Linked DNA regions of Homo sapiens: region 1 is linked to region 2. Evidence: fine-mapped expression QTL. A gene starts in region 2. The other region holds a variant in brackets. All regions are shown on one strand. Distances are between the middles of the regions. Region 1 overlaps SSC4D (scavenger receptor cysteine rich family member with 4 domains). Region 2 holds the start of YWHAG (tyrosine 3-monooxygenase/tryptophan 5-monooxygenase activation protein gamma).

Region 1 (3,012 bases), 41 kb after region 2:
GTCCAGACTGGGGGTAGCTTGTGGGATCATAGTATCATTTCTGCCTAAAACCAACCCCCCTACCCTGCTCCCTGTCTCCTGGCAGCCTGGGACGTGCTGCCTTCTCATCTACTGCAAATGACATCCTCAAGATACAGCCCCACACCTCTTCCTCCAGGAAGCCTTCCCTGATCTCCTGAGGAACGGGACCCTCTTCCACCTCTGGACTTCTTTGCCTCTTTCACTGTCCCTCTTTTAGAGCACTTTTCATTTTCTTCTTCTAGTCATGATCATCATTCTTGGGCTCATCTGACCTTCCTGTGAGATTAAGCTCCAGTCTCACCGCCCATTCATTTTCTATTTTTTTTTTTTTTTTTTGAGACAGGGTCTCACTGTGTCCCCCAGGCTAGAGTACAGTGGCATGATCTTACTGCAACCTCTGCCTCCCGGGTTCAAGTGATCCCCCTGCCTCAGCCTCCCAAGTAGCTGGGACTACAGGAATATGCCACCACGCCTGGCTAATTTTTGTATTTTTTGTAGAGACAGGGTTTCACCATGTTGGCCAGTCTGGTCTGGAGCTCCCAACCTCAAGTGATCCGCTGGCCTCGGCCTCCCAAAGTGCTGGGATTACAGGTGTGAGCCACCATGCCCAGCCATTTTCTCTAACTTTACATCTTCAATTTGTAATCCCTGTCTTCCCACTGCCTAGGGTAGGGTGTGAGAGACTCCTCTCCCAAAACCCAGGTGGTGCCCACATTATGCTTACGTACTTTTTCCATTCGGCAGTGTCGTAGGAGGTGCTCTACTGGTTAACATCTTCCTTGTTGGGGGCTGCGTTGGCAAGAATTCTGGAAAGGAAGTGAAGTGGATACAGGGGTCTTTCTGTTCTCCATCCTCACACCACGGGGTGTTTAAGGGGCAGGAGGATGGACCCATAAGGTGCTTGCCGCCAGAGCCTCTGGCCACACAAAGAGTCACAGCCAGGAACACTGGGGTATGAGAGGAGAGGGTCCACACCAGAGTCCTGGACTCCTCTAAAGCACGGTTTTTGTTGTTGTTTTTTATTTTATTTTATTTTTTGAGATGGAGTCTTGCTCTGTCGCTCAGGCTGGAGTGCAATGGTGCAATCTCAGCTTGCTGCAACCTCCGCCTCCCTGGTTAAAGCAATTTGCCTGCCTCAGCCTCCTGAGTAGCTGGGATTACAGGTGCCTGCCACCATGCCCAGCTAATTTTTTGTATTTTTAGTAGAGATGGGGTTTCACCATGTTGGTCAGGCTGGTCTTGAACTCCTGACCTCAGGTGATACACCTGCCTCGGC[T/C]TCCCAAAGTGCTGGAATTACAGGCATGAGCCACCGTGCCCAGCCTGAAGCACAGTTCTTAAAGCAGTTCACCTCCCTTGGGAACTGTTAGCGATGCAGATTCTCAGGCCCCATCCAGACCTGCAGAATCAGAAACTCTGGGATTGGGCCTCAATCTGTGTTTTCATGAGACCCCCTGATTTTCTTGAAAACTAGAAGCACTGCTCTCAGTTTCCGCTGCAGCTCTATGCCACGTGGAGCGCATGGCCAGTGTGACCCCAATAGTCGTTTTTTTCTTTGTTTTTCGAGACAGGATCTTGCTCTGTCACCCAGGCTGGAGTGCAGTGTCACAATCACGGCTCACTGCAGCCTTGACCCCCCCAGACTCCAGCGATCCTCCCTCCTCTGCCTCCCAAGTAGCTGGGACCGCCCCCAACACCTTGCTAATTTTTCTGATTTTTCGTAGAGATAAGGTACTATGTTCCCAAGATGGTCTCAAACTCCTGGGCTCAAGCAATCTTGCCACCTTGGCCTCCCAAAGTGCTGGAGTTACTGGCATAAACCACCATGCCCGGCTGATTGTCTGGTTTTAAAACTAGGAGAGGGGAACCAGTGGGGTGACTTGGACCTGTAGTTCCAGCTACTGAGGCGGGAGAATCCCTTGAGCCCAGGAGTTTGAGGCTGCAGTGGGCTATGATCACACCACTGCACTCTGGTCGGGACCAAACAGTGAGACCTCATCTCCAAAATCTCTAAAAAAATTTTTTTTAAAGGGAGAGGGGCTCTGCTGGGACAATCAAAGCCTTACATAGAAGCAGTAGTGCTGGTTTTCTTTTGGTCCAAGGTCAGGGTCAGGCAATGACCCAGAAGAATCCCTGGGACCCAGGCTGGGGTTCTTCCCTGGCACCAGGCATTGTAGCCTCTGGCCTGATCTGCATGGAACAGCCTTACCTGTGGGAAGTCCCTTCATTTATCTAGCCTACAGCCCTGCTGCCTGCCACAGTCTGTCTGTCCCTCCAGGTCCCAGGGCTCCACTCACCATCACACAGGACAGCCACATCCTCGTAGTGAAAGCAATTGTGGACGCCCCAGCCGCGGCTGCCGCACTCGCTCAGCGCAGCTTCCTGCCCGCGGCACTCCACGTTGTCCAGCAGGATGGGGCCTCGGCCTTGGCCAAAGGCAAGGGGCCGTGGCACGGGCAGTGCCAGGCCACAGCCCAGCTGGCGACACACTACGTTGGCGTCCACCACGTCCCAGTCGTCATCACAGACGCTGCCCCAGGAGCCACCGTGCATGACTTCCAGGCGGCCCCGGCAGCGGCTGGGGCCCCCCACCAGCCTCAGCTCTGTGAAGAGGGTGGAGCTGGCACCAGGGGGTCACTGAGTCCAACCTCCAGCATGCCCACTCCAGGATGTCCTTTTATTTTATTATTATTTTTTTTGGTAGAGACGGGGTCTCACTATGTTGCCAAGGCTGGTCTCAAACTCCTGGGCTCAAGTGATCCTCCTGCCTTGGCCTCCCAAAGCGCTAGGATCACAGACGTGCACTACGGGACCCAGCCAGGTTACCCGCTTTGCCATGAAGCCATGGGAACCTTGGGATCAATCCCTTCTGGAAAATGGGGAGACTACAGCTCCCCTGAGATGGGGGCATCTAGAGTCAAGGGGGGCTGGTTAGTCATCACTTCCTGTGGTTCCCTGTCTGAGGCTGGAGTACCTGGCGGACAGGTGAGGGTG
Region 2 (2,500 bases):
TTTTAAAAAGACTTTTTCCCCTTTAAAATAACTCCTCCCAGCCTCCACCCAGTCTAGGCTCTCTGCAATATGACAAATGCAGAATCTTCTGGAATGACTTGATACTGCCTCTCACCACGGCTTTGTTTGCACTATCAGATCAGACAGAATATTTTTTCCCCCAACTTATAGGAATTTCAACAGACGCGTGCCTGTATTCAAAAAAGAAACGGCATATGTCACACGAATCGAACCAGTCAGCTACATTCACCACCTTTTAATTTTACAGGCAATACCTACCCTTTTCAATACAAAAACATTAGGGAATAAAATGGAGATGACATGTTGAGAATGATCAATGAAAACGCTAGCGAGACAAACGTTCTCCCTTCCTAAAAGCCGGAGGACTTGCTTTGGGCGAATGGAGAAAGAAGAGCCTTTTGTTAAGAAAAACGTGAGCAAGGTGGTTTCGATTTTGCACCACGGAGCTCAGGTTTTCAAGAGACCCTATACAATGTTTCTGGGAAGATTCTCAGGGATGTGTCGGGACAGACAGTGGGGAAGATTCTGGGGGGGCTGGGGAGGTGGAAAACCGGGAGACCTGCTGAGTGAATGGGAAAGGCGCCGCCCAGACACCAGGGAGAGAAAGAGGAACCGCATCCATGCGGTCCCCCGCCCCCACGCCCAGGCTAGGAGGAGGGGGGAAGTGGGGCACAAAGGATGCGCACGCCTCCCCGCTCGGGTCCCCTGCACCCCTAGAGCCGCGGGGGCCGGAGACCCCGCTCCCAAGTCCAGCCCCGCGGGACCTCGCCCCGGCCCGCGCCCGCGCCGGGCCTGAATGGCAGCGCCGCGGGGCCACGGGGACTCCGAAAAGAGGCCGCGTCACAGCCCGGGTTCCCGTCGCCTCTCGGGACCCTCCCCAGCCCCCCTCAGTGAGCGAGACGGGGCGGTCAACCCGCCATCGCGACAGGGCGACGAAGCCCCGGGCCTTCCACGCCAAGGACCGCGTCTTCGGAGGGGCAGGGAGCGGCGGGGGAGGGGAGGAGACACTCACGTTCTTCATGGCCGCGGCCATGTCGTCGTAGCGCTCCGCCTGCTCGGCCAGCCGGGCTTTCTGCACCAGTTGCTCGCGGTCCACCATCTTCGCGGGGCTGGGTCTGGCCGGAGAAGGAGGAGGACACTGGGGCGGCCTGAAGGGCTTGGAGGGCGCGACTGGAGCCCAAGTGCCGGAGAGGACCGACCCACAGAGCGAGCAGCTGAGGCGGCGGCTGCGCGGAGGAGGCGGCTGGAGCTGCGACCGCGGGACCGGGCGCGAGGCGGCTGCGGCTGCTGTGCGTGCCACTGACGGACAACCCCCTGCGGCCCCGCCCACGCCGCATGACGAAGGCAGGCCCCGCCCACCCGTCCGCAAGCCCCGCCCATGCCCCGCCCGAGCCCGGCCGCGGCTAGAACTCCCCGCTCCCCAGCTGGGCTCACTGCGCGTCTTCCGGGCACCCCGTCCTTTCCCACTGCGCCCCCACTCTCCCCTTTTTTCACTTCACTCCCCAGTTCCCTCACCCCAGCTTCTCCAGTCGCCCCCTTACGCCTCCCCCTTGAGCCTCCCGCCCCGCCAGCCCTCGGACGCATGGGCCCCTGGGAGTTGTAGTGTAACCTGCAGTGCACTGAGGCGCTGAGGAGACCAAGGACAAAGGGGCGGTCAAGACTACAACTCCCAGCGGACATAGCGCGCAGGCGCAGGAGGACGGGGGGGGGTGCTTCGAATCCCGAGGCCGCTGGGGACCCCTGGCGGGGATCAGGGCTGCATCAGTCCCTGCGAGTGCTGATTCACCGCCCCGCCCCATATTCTCCGGGAAATTACGAGAGGAGGGGGCAGGGGCCTCAGTCCTAGACCCTGTTTCCGAGATCACGTAGCAGGTCGTGGTGGGGGAAGGACAGGAGGCGCGTCCATTGTAGATCCAGACTCTCAGTGTGGTGCCTGCCCGCGGGATGGCCGAATTAAGGGGCCAGACCCTGGGGACTGTCACCTCCACCCCCTACGAGCTTCCATTAAACCCCCCACCCCACCTTGAGGCTCTTGGGCCTGAATAGGTGAAAACATGGACGAACGACAAATACCGGCTGGCCACAGTGGTTGATTTCCAGAAAGGATGCAGCTGTCTGCTGGCTGACCCTGGAGAACCCCTTCTTCCTCTCCAGGGTGGAGTGCTAAAGATTGAGTTCAGCTACCAGGAGCCTACTCCACATCTAACTGGGCTGCGTCTAGGGCTTGGTTGTCCAGCCCTTCTCTCCCCTCCTAAGACATACATACCTACTGAGGTCACGCTGATATATTCTCGTTCATATTATTCCACATAGCTTGCAGATAGCATGGGTTTTTTTGCTTTGTTTTGCTTTTTTGTAGAGACGGGGGTCTAGCTTTGTTGCCCATGCTGGTCTCGAACTCCTGGGCTCAAGCGATCCTCACGCCTCGGCCTCCCAAGGTGCTGGGATTACAGATGTGAGCCACCATGCCTGCAGGCCT

The links. PIP is the estimated chance that this variant, and not a neighbour inherited with it, causes the effect.
Region 1: its variant is the best candidate, but not a certain one, in a credible set for the expression of YWHAG in whole blood (TOPMed, PIP 0.54).

What each region holds. Positions count from the first base shown.
Region 1 is chr7:76,397,971-76,400,982 of GRCh38, forward strand. SSC4D (scavenger receptor cysteine rich family member with 4 domains) reads right to left here. Exons shown (of 11, transcript NM_080744.2): 4 at 2,316-2,621; 5 at 750-827. It also overlaps a transcript of ZP3 not described here. Among named protein-coding and RNA genes, the nearest start is that of SSC4D, 10 kb to the right of the region's middle. The variant T/C (reference allele first, on the strand shown) is at 1,298.
Region 2 is chr7:76,357,689-76,360,188 of GRCh38, forward strand. YWHAG (tyrosine 3-monooxygenase/tryptophan 5-monooxygenase activation protein gamma) reads right to left here and starts at 1,303. Exons shown (of 2, transcript NM_012479.4): 1 at 1,034-1,303. The coding sequence starts at 1,120. RefSeq lists silencers at 434-624, 708-907, 1,228-1,637 and an enhancer at 732-1,378.